2 linked regions of the Homo sapiens genome follow. The protein of the gene in region 1 interacts with the protein of each later gene in a pairwise test. Each region holds a gene or a part of one and is shown on either strand. Other genes may lie near its edges.

Region 1 (7,840 bases):
CAACTTTAGTTGACACAAGTTTCTTAAGAGACAAAATTTACCGGAATATTTATTTTAAAAGGTTAGTTTATTACCAAGGGATAATTGTTTATTTTTTTAATGTCCTTACTTAGGACATGGACATTCACCAGGATAACATGAAACATTGTGAAAATGCTCACAGTATTGTTAAGTACTTATGCATTTACTGTTTGCATTTTTTTTTTTTGCTTTAGAATAACTTTTCAACCCACTAGCAACAGTAACCAAGGAAATATAAATCCAACAGCCTAGAATTACAACTATTTGAGAAGATTCATGGTTTCAACGTACTGCTATATTTACTGTTTCATTCTGGACAGTTTCCCGTTTCTTTAACTCCTCTCTAAGTGTCCAAAACAATATACAGAAAGTCTGCACTAAGCTTCGTTAAAGCTTTAAAATTTAGCATAGTATGTCTGGCAAATCAGAAAAACCACATATTTGTCATAACCTTTACCTTCCCTAAAATCAGAGTACATCCTGTGGATAAGGATTATTTCCCACATATTAAAGCAGAACATGATGAAACTGCTGTCCTATTTATTACAGAGGGAATGTCAGATATAAAGTAGTTACCTTAATCCTACGGTGCTCACTTACGAAACACCATCCCTCCAGTTTGGCAATGCATAGTGCACTCTCATTAATCAGAATTAAACTATTTGGAAAACATATTGAGTATTTTCATATTGACATTGAATATTTTCATCTTTATGAAACAATTTCTGGACAGACTTTTTTCCCTCCAACTGACCACATGATTAGTAAAGATAGTGTACCACTTGTTTATTACTTATGGATATCTTTAGTAATGTTTCATTTAAAAAACAAAACAAAACTCTTCTTTCTCATCCATGTCTTGGGCAATCACAGATGCAAGAGTTGACATCTGTGAATATTTTCTGATTACTTACTAACTAGGAATATATAAGTTAAAAAAATTTTTTAAAGGAGAAAAGCCAAATAGTTCATGTTGACTTTGAAAGACTGATGACAATGATGTGGCAATTCTAAAGTACTTAGAGGTTTAACCCAAAATTTGTTTACGTCTTTGATTTTTAGTAAACACTGCACTGATAAACATGAGTTTGTTCAGATCAAGAGTATGTTGGCATTCTCTTAAGCATAGTTTGAAACCAGAGAGCTCAAGCATAAAACAGCTCTGACAAAGATAACCAGTCAAGCATAAAAATGGGAGTTGGTTGTGTCAGAATACATTAAGAGGCCGAAGGCTGTCTGGCAGACAGCTGTCTTGCCATCACTGAAGGTGACTATTACCACTAAAAGTTGTTTTTCGGATACAGTACTTGAAATTGCTGTCATCTTGTATTTAAAATGCTCCTTATTTATAAAGCGTCACATCCTTTTCTTATCTGAAGCCTCCTTCTTGGATAACCACAAACCTAAAAGCAGTCTAAAATTGTGCTGATGCTTTCCTACAAGCACAGGGAAACTCTTATATTGAATCTTTGTCTATTTGGAGTTGAGAATGTCTTTGGCTTTTATTTTAAATGCCTTCTTAAATATAGATCACTATTTTTAAAATGTAAACATCCAAAGGCATTCCCTCACACTTGGAGGAATGCTAAGGCAGGAGACATGCTTGTAGTAGTCACATTTCACTTTCCCAGACGGGTGCCACAAACGTTCCGCTCAGTTACTGCTTAGGAGGCAGCATTATTAAATGCCTCACGACTTAACGGTCAGCCTCCATGCTTCTTGCTAACCTACATTTCCAAAAGATCATCCGAGAAATCTGGCAAGCCACCGAAATGGTACTAGTAAACTGGATCCATCCAAAGCACTCCACAGTGCCCTGTGGGTGTGTTTCTCACTGTAAACTACTGGGTAAAGAATTTACATACAATTTTATCTCCAAACTCGATTTGTATCCTTTGTAGGTTAGTTCTCAGGAGTACCCACTCCAGCCCAGAAATAAGTCAACGTAGTATTTCCAAACTATCACTTCAAATGTCCACGGTCAAGGGCAGGAGGAGGAAGGAATAGTAACGGGAAAACTTGTCAGCGATTAGCCATCCATAAAAATGTTCTCCCAGCGCTCCTCCTTCCGATCACAAAGCTGGCGTCAGGCAGTCTCCTGTATCTGCTTCCCACCTCGCCCCCTCCCCTCTGCGGAGAGCTGGCACCGAGGGGCGGGCCAAGGAAAAGACAAACACCCCGGCTCCGACACAGTCCAAGCGCGAGCCCGGAGACACTTCAACAACATTCCTAACTTTTTTTCTCAGTTCGCATGCCTCAAAGGTAAACAAAGCAAAAAGCCTACGAAACAGAAGGCAAGTGAGGCCAATTCGGCGCTGGCGAGTTTAAAAGTGGCCCCCAAAGAGTCACAATGACGACCCCCGCCGCCCCCTCTGTCCGCTGTCCCCTATCTCCAGCTACAGCAAGCGACCCCTCAGGCGCCTATCCTGGTCCCTGCCCACGCCCCGGGCCCCAGCCCCGACCCGACCGCCGCCCCCGCCGCGGGTCGAACATCCCCTGACAGGTCCCGGGGCCCGCGGCGCGGGCGGATGCAGGCGCGAGGAAGGCGAGCTGCGCCGCGGCCAACTCCCCAGAGCAGTCCCCTCCGGCCCCGCGCCCACCCCACCCCACCCCACTCCACCCCAGACAGGCTCCACCAAAAAACCCGGGAACAACGACCGCCAAAAGCCAAGCCTCACGCCGAGGAGCCTCCCAGGCTGCCCCGAGGACGAACAACTTCGCCCTCCACTCAATGCGCTCACACGCACGCACACAAGCAGCGCGCGGCCGAGGAGGGCACGTCTTACCTGTCCCCGCCGTGCCACTCATCCCTCCCCCACCCAGGTCCGGCGCCCCCAACCCCGCCCCCGCCGTGGTCCCCCGGCCGCCCGCTCCGAGCGCCGCGCACTCACTGCCTGGCTGCGCGCGCCCAGCGCCTGCAGGGCCCGGCGGCGGCGGCGGGGACCGAGACAGCGGCTGCAGCAGCGGCGGCGGCGGCGGCGGCGGCGGCGGCCCCAGCCGGCGTCAGTCAGACTGGAGCCGCGAAGCCTCATCGCCCGTATTAGTGCGCCGACCTGGAAAGCGGCCAGGGAGCCCTGCTTGCGGCCCGCCCCCGCCCGCCGCCGCGCGCTCTGGCCGCTCCGGGAGCCGCAGAGGAGGGGGCTGCGCGGGCCCGGCGGGGGGCGGGAGCGAGACCGGCCCCACGGCCACGTGCGCGGAAACTCGCGGCGCGGGGGTGGCGGGGTAGTACTCCTCGCAGCGGCCTGCGGCTCGGTTCCCGCCTCTTCCCCACCCCCAGCCCCGCGCTGCCCTCTCGGTCCCCCTGCGCGACCCCAGGCTCGGCCCCTGCCCGGCCTGCCGGGGTGGCCCGGGGGTGGGGTGGGAGCCCTTTGTCTGCGTGGGTCGCCTCGCGTCTCTCTCTCCCACCCCACCTCTGAGATTTCTTGCCAGCACCTGGAGCCCGAAACCAGAAGAGTTGTCAGCCCAACAAGAATATAGGATCACCGGCCCATCAGTCTGGAGACCCTTCTGAGCTGCTGTTCCTCACATGTTTCTGGGCCCTGATAGTGACTCTCACTTGCCCTGTTTGTTCCTGATTTGCTTTTCGGAGTAAGGGGATCCTGTCCCCATGGACAGTGACAGAGCAACTGGGCCGCAATGGCATAGGCAGAAGAAAATCTAATCACTCTGGGGGTGAGTGGTGGTTAAAACGACTCATGTAATTATGTGGATTGTAATTTCCTTACACATATTTATTTGCTTAACAACCCAGCATGTGAGATATATTATCTAATCTAATAAAAGATACAAACTTATGGGCACACAGCAATGTTACTGTACAACTTTCTCGTCTCACGGCCTGGCTGTCCCCCAGGTAGCCTGCCTCTTAAAGTCACTGTGGACTCCTGGAACCCACTCAGAAACGCCACTTAGGAAGAACCACCTCTGATTCCCCATCAGCCCGTAGTTCCTCACAGAAAAGGCATTTGCTGCAGGGGTGAACGTGGAATAAAGCCACAGGGCAGTTTTCAGCTTGCTCCTGTGTGCAGGAAAGTCATACCTCCAGTTGGCCCCGATGGCGGCTCCGAAATGTAAAGCAAGGCCTTAAATTTAACTGCTTTTTCTAGTTCTCAAAGCACTGCACTTTCTTCATGGCAGATGCTATTTTTGCATTATTATACCGTTGTAGTTGAACGGTGATTTGTTTAAAACAACATTTGCAGCAGAACCTTAAATACCATGCCTTAACCTCAAAGTCTTCTTTCTACACTGGCCCAGATACCTCTGCACCCGGCTATGTGTTGGGTTTGAGATTGTCCTGGGTGAGAAACACCAGGAAACAGCGGGACCGGTAAGGGCTACAGATTATATATTAAGGATTAGGCTGGATGTGGACTTTATTGCCAGTAAACTAATTAGGTCCTCAGAATTGATACCTTGTGGCTCAAGTTTTTAAAAATTAAATTAAGAAAAGAAATGGCCCAATCACTATCTCAGTTTCCTTCTCGTATATGAGCATAATGCAGAGGACAAGATGCAGAGAAAGAAATTATAACCTCTGCAGCGCTGGCTCATGCTTCTGGCATGGAGTCTTTCTCAGTTCGCAGAATTCTCTTGACTCTTGGCAGGCCTTTGATTTAGAGTATGTCTAGTCTGCTCTTTTCTGTACGTTCTCATTTACATACCAGGATATTTCTGCACGATGATGACTTTTTCCTGCCTAAACATTAGTCTGTCACTGATATAATTCCTATCATGTATTCCTCAAGGCTAGTATAGAAAGTTAATCCATTACGCTCAAGAACAATAAGATCTGGTGAGTTCCAAGAAGGAGAAAATGCTTGGCCTAAGACAGAAGGCGCAGTGTTGACACTCCATTTTACAGAAGCTGACTGTCCTGGTTAATGGAAAGCTAGACTTCGCTTTATCTTTCCCAGTGATTTCTTGATTGGCTGTGGTTTTACTGCTTAATAGAACTTCCACCAAAACATTCTGTTATGGGAATCATATGAAAGGAGAGACTCAGAGGTTGTGATTTGGTAGAACCGCCAGTGAAATTTTGGTTCAGGACCTCAAAACCACGGCAAAACTGAAATCTGTTTTCTGAAAGATGATAAGGTCTTGGCCTAACACGAACTCCCTCAGGCTATAAAACAGTGGTAGGAAGGGCAGCTTCCTTACCCCAAGAGAGAGCCAATTCTTTGCATTTGCCATATACCCAGCATAAAACCAGACTGTGGTCTTTGAAGCTGTTCCTGAAGTGACAGTGGAGAGAACCGGGCAGCCCAGAAACCCCAGGCAAGGAGATTGATCCTGCAAGAGAAGGGGGTTCATCATGGCGGATGACCTAAAGCGATTCATGTATCAAATGTTACAAAGTGTTGAAGGGCTCCATGCTATTGTTGTGTCAGAGTTGGAGTACCTGTTATTAAAGTGGCCATTGATAATGCTCCAGAGCATGCTTTGAGACCTGGTTTCTTACCTACTTTTGCCCTTGCAACAGACCACGGGAGCAAACTTGGACTTTCAAAAAATAAAAGTATCATCTGTTACTGTTACACCTACCTGGTGATTCAGTTAAATCATTTACCTTTGGTGGTGAGTTTCATAGCCAGCAGCAATGCCAATACAGAACTAATTGTCAGCCTAGAAAAGAAACTTACTCCATTATTTGAAGAATTGAGACAAGTTGTGGAAGTTTCTTAATCAGACAGTGGTTTCAATGTGTACCTTATCTTTATTATAACAACACAATATCGATCCAGCAATCTTTAGACCATAATACTTTTATCCATGTCCTCAAGAAAGGGCCTCTTTTTCCAACTTATACTGAAGAGCAAGCATATAGATAAAATTTATGGACGGATTGATTGTTATATTTTCTGGTGTAGGGTCTTTTCTTATTTAGTGAGATCTGGGGATACCACAAAAATAGTTCAGTCTGTCACAGCACCCATGGAGTTAGTCCAGCCACCAAATATGGATGAGATTCTATTCCGTGGATCAGAATCAAACTGGTACATTGATCCATTTGAGCCATTAAGTGCTCTCTATTGTACAATCTGCCCAGGCCTGCAGAATGAAGCAGATTTTTTATTGCGAATAATAATGAGATATTTTTCTTCAGATTATGTTTTATTTCTTCTCATTGAGTGTGAGGAACATAAAATGGCTTAGTAAAAGCAATAAAATCAGTACAGTCACTAGCTTTCCTTTGTACTTATTACTTTATGATATAGATGAATATTACTGATTGGTTTGATTCTTCTCAGAGGGTGCTGCTCTTTAATGAAAATAAAAATTATAGCTAATGGTTTTTCCTCAAACTCTGCTTTCTATAACTAATCAGTGTTTTAATGTTTGTGTGTTCTTTATAAAATTTAAATGTAATTGGTTACTGAATTCTGTTTCCAATATTAGTATTATGTAAACATGATAGTATAACCATTTTTTCATGTGAGTATACATAAAATAGTATTAAAAAATAAAAAAATAACAGATTGTAACAAAGTCTGTAGTCATCCATGGATGCAAAGATTCTGCTTTGTACGTCTCTTGTACCTTAAGTTTGAGCTAGCATGATAATGGTTCCACTCAGAGTAATAACTAGGAATCATAGCCTCCACACTCCTCCCACCTCAAGTCTCCTTTCTAAATTTTATCTGTAACTCTGTCCTGATGCTGCAGTTTTTCTGCCTCCCATTCGGACTTTCCTTGAAAGTCATCTTTCATTCCATAATCACTATTGAATGCTTTCCTAAGTACCAGGCACCCGAATTAACTATATGAACACAGAGCACTGGCCCTTAGTAAAGGCAGCCTAAGAGAGAGATACATCTACCAACGATTATCACACAACTTTGTGTGTCACCGTAGGGGAGTGGGCACAGGGAGGTGTCAGGGAGGTCTTCACAGGGTCGAAATTTTAGCTCCAACTTGAGAGCATGAACACTTACTGTCCTGCACCCCCCTGGGCCTCCACCCTGCCTGAGTGGGTGCAGCCCTGCAGGTGTCAGCCTCACAGCAGAGTGCAGGCTGCACTTCAGCCCACTTGCCACCCTGGCCTGACACTCTAATGCAGGCCCAACTTGTTCAATCATGAAGGCAGAATGCCTACTATGTGCAGAATTCCCTGAGGCTTTGAGTAGAAAAGCCTCAGTTTTCCTAAGAGAATTGTCAAACTAGTTGGATAGATAAGAAAAACAATGTTAACACAGCAGTTCATCACCAAATACATTCTAAAGGATTGAGACAAGAGAGCAATGGACCATCTTGACTCAGCAGTGAGGATCAGATGCTGCCTCCATTGTGAGAGTCCCCCAACCGGGAACTGGACTGGCGCTTCCCACACCTCCTCTCATTTCCCTCTCATGACCTCTCACGGGAGAATTATCATCTGCATTTTACGTTGAGGAACCTGAGGGACACACAGACTATCCCCTCCAGGCTGCCTTTCTCCAACGCCCAGGTTTTTACACCTCATTGTTGTCCTGGAACTTGAAGTGGAGTTGAAAAGTGATGAACATGGGCAGTGACATCCCAGGAAGAATAATCTACACAGGCTAGAAGGTGGAAGGGGCTGAGGGAGAAAAGTTTGTAGAGAGAAGAGGTAAGGAGACCAATTAGGAAGCCATTGCAACATTCTAGGCATGAGGTGATGGGCGTCTGTGGGATTCTAGAAAAGTGAGGAGGAGATGTATTTATGGACACTTTGAAGAGATAATCAATAAACTTTGGCAAAAAAAAAAAACTGGAGGAATCAAGGACCGAAGACGGGAGGAAATGCTACCTTTAGAAGAAATTGGTTAATAAGTACTATGAAGCAGGAAACTATGCTTTG
Region 2 (6,308 bases), on another chromosome or scaffold:
TTCCTCTAGACTGTGACCATCTTGAGGATTCGGTCATGTGTTTTTCATCTTTGTATCCCTAACACATAACAGTACTTGGCATTTGTTAGTAATCAATAAGTGTACCACATGACTGACTAGTCTTCTTTTTACTTAACATATCAAAAAGTCTAAACCAATGCTATGTAAAGTAACTAGCCTATGAACTGTTAATAGTTTATAATGCAATAGAATTCAAGTCAGAATGTTAAAAGAAAAAGAAATGCTTCCTTTTTAAGAAAGTCTTGCTGTGAAAAAGTATCTAGCAGAACTAATGCTTTGTGATGTAGCTGATTGACATTCTTGCCCCATTTTGGTTCAAATACTTGAAAGTTGGATGAAGACATTTTCATAAGGAAAAATAAAATGCTGAGGGGAAGGATAGTTAAAATTAACTTTATGGTCTTCATTCATCTTTATAAGCACAAATATTCAGGCTGTCAAACATTTAAACTAAAGACACCTATTTTCACTGGTAAAAAAATAAATACAGACACAGGGCACTTAAAATGTTTTTAAAAAGCCAAGACACATAAAAAAAAACTAATAAATTTTTAATTAGAATTTTTTCCTTTTTTTAACAGGACAAGTAACAGATTACATCAAACTTCAGAACTTCTCAAATACCTAGTTATTATACACATTCCCATCTGTCTTGCAGGGAGGGATCTTGGTCGGCTTAACAGTTTCAGGTAAAATAAGCTGCATAATAGTATATATTACAATAATAAATGTACAATGTTTACATGAAATATGTTTTAGAAGCAAGAAAAAGATGCATCTGCATCAAAGGCGACCTTTTAAAATGCCACAACTATTTTTTACATTCACTCTTGCAACAGGTTACAAGATGGGGGTCACTAAGCTCAGATAAATCACTATGATGCACATAAAATACAGGAAGACTGGTTACTTTATATATTATATATATTTATATTTTCACACGTTAGCATCTGAGACATAAACTGAGAATTTAAAATTTATTCTCTTCAGATAACAAATCATTTTTTATTCTTCATAAACAAGGTGCCCACAAAAGCACACAGGTAAGGCACAATAGGGCTTTCTGTTACAGAATAGTGTGCATCATGTTTACTTAACCAGAAAACGTGCATTATCTGTGCAAGTTCATGCTGCAAACCCAACGCATACAATAAAACAAAAAGGAAACTGAGCTTTAAATACAACCAAAATTTGTACAATTCCAGCTGTTTCACATATTCATTTGGACTGACAATTATATATCAACAGGTTATTTTTAAAAAGCCAATTGTAGATTACAAGTAAAATTTACTCAGCAACTATTTTTATCTGAAATCATAAACAGTAATAAAGTAAGTTTACTGAAACAAATTAAATACTGAGGCACAAAGCAACAGTCAATCGTGCATTTACTATATTGCAAACTTTCATGACCCAAAATTGCAAGTATAATTTGTCAAATACACATTTTGCTGCAACAATGTGCCCTGCTTTAAACTTGACATATAACAGAGGCACTAACATATCATTAAATTATAAATAGATTGGGAAAATGACTTAACCCCAATGGTACTATGTCATGGCCCTAGTATTTATAATAAATACAGCTTTTCACAAAATATTTTTCCAATATCTGCCAATTTCTTCTTTATTGCTCACATAAATTTGACTCTATTACAACTGGTATCAGAACTTTCACACAAAATCATACTCAGACATTTTTATATAAAACCTATAAAAGATATTTTAAACTTGTATCTAATACTTCCAGGTGTTTGGCTGTTTGATCTATGCAAAAGTACAGCCATATGTATATATCTCTGTGTGTGTATATATATACATCTATATATACACACACATACACACATACATATATACACACACATTAGATTATGAATAAAATGGAAAGCTTATTTTACTGCTTTAATGCAGACATCCTCATAAAACAAGACTACTTTCACCACCACCAGCATTTATACATATATACAAAGCCAGTTTAAGTACATATACATCCACTTACACATATTTGTAACCACTAAGCCCAAATTAATTTTCCCATATTCCAGCCGTAGCAAATGAATCGCTTATAAGCAACAGAAACCTAAGGTTAAATTGGGAAATCAACAGTTTTACCACATTAGCCTGTAGGAACTATGCAGGTGACTGTATACAAAAATTCACAACATTAGTTCACAAGAAATTATGGGACTACAAGAAGCCTTTTCATCATGCTTTTGTGTGGTTATCCAAACACTTCTTGGGGCAAAAATACAACCACCACATCTGAAAATGCTTAATAAAGTCAGTGTTCCTCATGCAAAACTTTAAATGTATTGGCTTAACTGAGCTCCAAAAACTGAATGAAATAATTATCCTACCTACTCAGCATTGCTGCCTCACTGCTAAATCCCTTTGGAACCTTAAGACTTCTGGAACGTTCAGAGATGTATTCATCAATAAAAATATTACATACAAAAAGCATTTAAAAAGGAAGACAAAAAGCCAAACAGGAATTTTCCTATTGTAAATAACAGTCTTAGAAATGGAAGAAAATCTTTTCAGGAACTTCCTTGAGAATTGGTTAGGCCAGTCCGAAGACGAAGATGAGACATGGAGTTCATATGTTTATTTGATGGCTTCAATGGAGTGTTGGAAGTGAGAGCCTGGGGAAAGCGATGGTGGTATCTATCTAGTCGTAAATATTTTACTGTAACCAATTTCCCTGTTGTAAGATAAAAATAATATTTTAGATCAGTAAAACTGTTTAATATTTGCAGAAAATTAACTGTGGTAAAAGACATATGAGCACAAAACATAAATAAAGTCATCTAAAATTATTACTCAAAAAAATGCTAACCTAAATTCTTTTATTTGAAATCTGGTATAGTTTAAAATTAAACTATAACTATCTTTTCAAAATGTTTGTAGTACTCAAATTTCTTACCATCAAACCAAGAGCCATGCAATGCTTTAAAAGCCTTTCCAGCATATTCTGGAGACAGACATTTAACATATACACAACCCTGTGATATTAAAAAAGAAAGAAAATAGTCTTAGTTTAATAGCAACAAATCCAAAACATGAAATTCAATACCAAAAGTTACTTTACCTCACGTGAATTTTTGTCTACTGCAATGTGAACAATGCCATCATTATCACTGCATTTTTCTAAAATTGCTTCTTGAATTGCCAAATGCCACTGATCCCCTATTTCCCTAAAAGTTAATGAAAACAAAAATCAACAACCATATTCCTACTCGGTAAAAATTCTTCACTGTCTCTTACAACATATATATATTACTAGAATTGGTATAGTTTTAAAACCACATACGATTTTAATTGGTATTAAGTAAATGCTTGTTGACTAACAGGAGGTAGATTTAAAAATTACAATTCAGAAGTCTCAGCCCTCCTCCCACTTTCCAGTAAAAGAGTGCAGAGCGCTGGCCAGGCGCGGTGGCTCATGCCTGTAATCCCAGCACTTTGAGAGGCCGAGGCAGGCGGATCATGAGGTCAGGAGATCGAGACCATCCTGACTAACACGGTGAAACCCCGTCTCTACTAAAAATACAAAAAAAAAAAAAAATTAGCCAGGCGTGGTGGCAGGTGTCTGTAGTCCCAGCTACTCGGGAGGCTGAGGCAGGAGAATGGCGTGAACCTGGGAGGCAGAGCTTGCAGTGAGCCGAGATCACGCCACTGCACTCAACCCTGGGCAACAGAGTGAGACTCCGTCTCAAAAAAAAAAAAAAAAGAGTGCAGAGAGCTGAGGCAATGAAAGACTAGCCCACCGCTGCAGAATAAATGGATTGGGTCATTCCTATGTTTAAAAATCCTGTGTACTTACAGTAATTTCTGTTTTCTTTCTATTGTTAATAAGTACTTTAAATGAGTTGTGAACTTATTAAAGTTGTAAAAGTTAAATGTTAGTTATTTGAGACAGGGTCTCGCTTTGTCACCCAGGCTGGAGTGCAGTGGCGTGATCTCGGCTCACTGCAATATGTGCCTCCCAGGCTCAAACCATTCTCCCACCTCAGCCTCCCAGATAGCTGGGACTACAGGCACACACCACCAATTCTGGCTAATTTCTTTTGTATTTTTTGTAGAGACGGGGTTTTGCCACATTGCCCAGGCTGGTCTCGAACTCCTGAGTTCAAGTGATCCACCCACCTCGGCTTCCCAAAGCACTGGGATTATAGGTGTGAGCCACTGTGCCCAGCCGAATGTTATTTTCTTTAATTGTAATGATAGGTTCAAATTCCTAAAGAAAATTCTTAGTAAATACTACATTTGAGCTTCTCTTTTCCAAAATAATTGATACAGGACTAACATTTTGTACAGTCACCTTACTATAATGACAGTTTTAAGGTGTTTCTGCTGTAGTAAGGGACATTTGTCTTGCTTGTGAGACAAAGATGGCAGGAGAGAGAGGAAAGTGACTTCACTTCAAATCACAAATTTTCATCTTAGGTAATAAAATAGTGGACTTGCCAATTCCTAAGGCATGAGGTAAGATTCCCAACAGAGGTATCATCACACTACTAATTGTTTCTATCTCTGCAAAATAGAGGCGGTGTTTGTCTCTGTGTGTGTGGGGGGGGTGTGTGTGTGTGTGTGTGCGCGTGCCCACGTGCAAACACGTGTGCATACTGCTTCCTCACATTTCCAATTTTGCTGTCACTTATTTGGAATTTCATCAATGAGTGATTAGATGAGACTTTGGGGGTATTGTATACATATTGTAATTGCCACTGTTGGGACTTTTAAAACAAACAGAATTTGATCTGTACTATCACTGGATAGATAAGCAGTGCCCTCAGGAAGCTAATTCTAAGAACTATTACAGCTTATATATGAAATACTGTGAATTCTAAGGCAGTCACTTTTGACTGTGCTATTCTCTGGAAGCATATGTTGTTGGAATTATAAAGTCTGAAAAGTTCTTCAAATATTATATTGACAAGTGGAGACAGGACTTTGTAGAGAAGCAGGTATATACATCTTTGTAGGAAACTTTTTACAATTTGAGATTTGAAATTTGTAAGCAGCAGTGATTGTATCTATATTTTCTACTGAGGCAAAAATATTGACAGTCATGTATAATGACTTACACATTTAATAAAGGGTACTCTTTGTCATTGTGAGTCATTAATTTGCCTCAAGCATTTATCTATCTGCTATGACGATTCATAAGGAATACAAAGATTTATAAAAGTTTTACAAATCTTTATACATTAGTGTCCTTTGGCCAAATCTTTGCTTGGAATTTAATGAAAGAGAAAAACATAACATTTCTGTGGTAGAGATTCAGAAGAAAAACATTTTCAATTACAGACACACCATTATAAGAATATCATGCATTTTCCAGCCAAATATTCAGAATAAGAGTTACATGTACCCCTGATCATAATACTTACATAACGGGATCAAACATATTCCGAATCTTTAGACACGGTGTCAAACTATTTGGTGGTGAATTTCTTCTATCTAAATGAAATGCTACAAAAAACAAGTTAGTTTTACTATTTGACATTGTTCTAGTTTGTTGAAAGGTATTCAATCATTCAGTTCATTCAAAAAATATTCACTGCATGCTTTTACTAGGAGCCAGACCCCTGGTTAGATGTTAAGGTGAGTAAGACAGTCATTGCTATCAAAGAGTTTACAGTTTAATGGGAGAGACAGATGATAAAGAGTGTCATGTAAGAAAGTACAACTGTGATTAAGTCCTTAAAAAAAAAAGTACAAAAAGCTTTTTAAAAGTAACTTAACCTCATATGAGAAAATAAAACTTCCCTGAAAAAGTGAAATTTATGTGGGAACTGAAGAATAAAAATTAGCAGGGTGAAGAGAGGTGTGTAAAGGAAGATTTCAAGCAGAGGTGATTGCTTGTACACAGCTCCTGGGGCACGAAGGAGCAAATGTGGCTGGAGTAGAAAGAATAGAGATAAACCTACAGAAGATGTCAGATTATTTAAGATGATGTAGGCTACAAAAAAGTATTTGGGCATTATGGTAAGAGTAATAGCCACTCAACTGTTTTAAGGAGTAGAATAGGATGAGATCTGTCTTTTAAAACTACATATTTTAAAAATACATTGTTATGTGGAGACTCAGGTAAAAGCAGAAGTGAATGCAAGATGACCAGTTAGAAGGTTATTATTATATTATAGTTGTCTAAGAAGGAGAGGATAATGATGTGGGTAAGACAGGCCAACAGTGCAAGTGACAAGCGGATAGAATCAGGACATATTATGGAGTAGATATGACATGACCTGTTGAAAGGTTGGACAAAGAGGGATAAAGGAGAG

Evidence for each region. The genes of interacting proteins can lie anywhere in the genome.
Region 2: the proteins of SMAD9 (region 1) and LEMD3 interact in binary tests that used the Homo sapiens proteins (3 or more experiments, as listed by UniProt).

Annotation. Positions count from the first base shown.
Region 1 is NC_000013.11:36,917,204-36,925,043, forward strand, and holds the start of SMAD9 (mothers against decapentaplegic homolog 9), read right to left. Parts: upstream 3,036-7,840; 5' UTR 2,913-3,035; intron 2,834-2,912; exon of another isoform or gene 1-2,833. UniProt on the Homo sapiens protein: Transcriptional modulator activated by BMP (bone morphogenetic proteins) type 1 receptor kinase. SMAD9 is a receptor-regulated SMAD (R-SMAD).
Region 2 is NC_000012.12:65,242,576-65,248,883, reverse strand, and holds the end of LEMD3 (inner nuclear membrane protein Man1), read right to left. Parts: intron 5,497-6,308; coding exon 5,415-5,496; intron 3,216-5,414; coding exon 3,110-3,215; intron 3,024-3,109; coding exon 2,945-3,023; intron 2,723-2,944; coding exon 2,559-2,722; 3' UTR 529-2,558; downstream 1-528.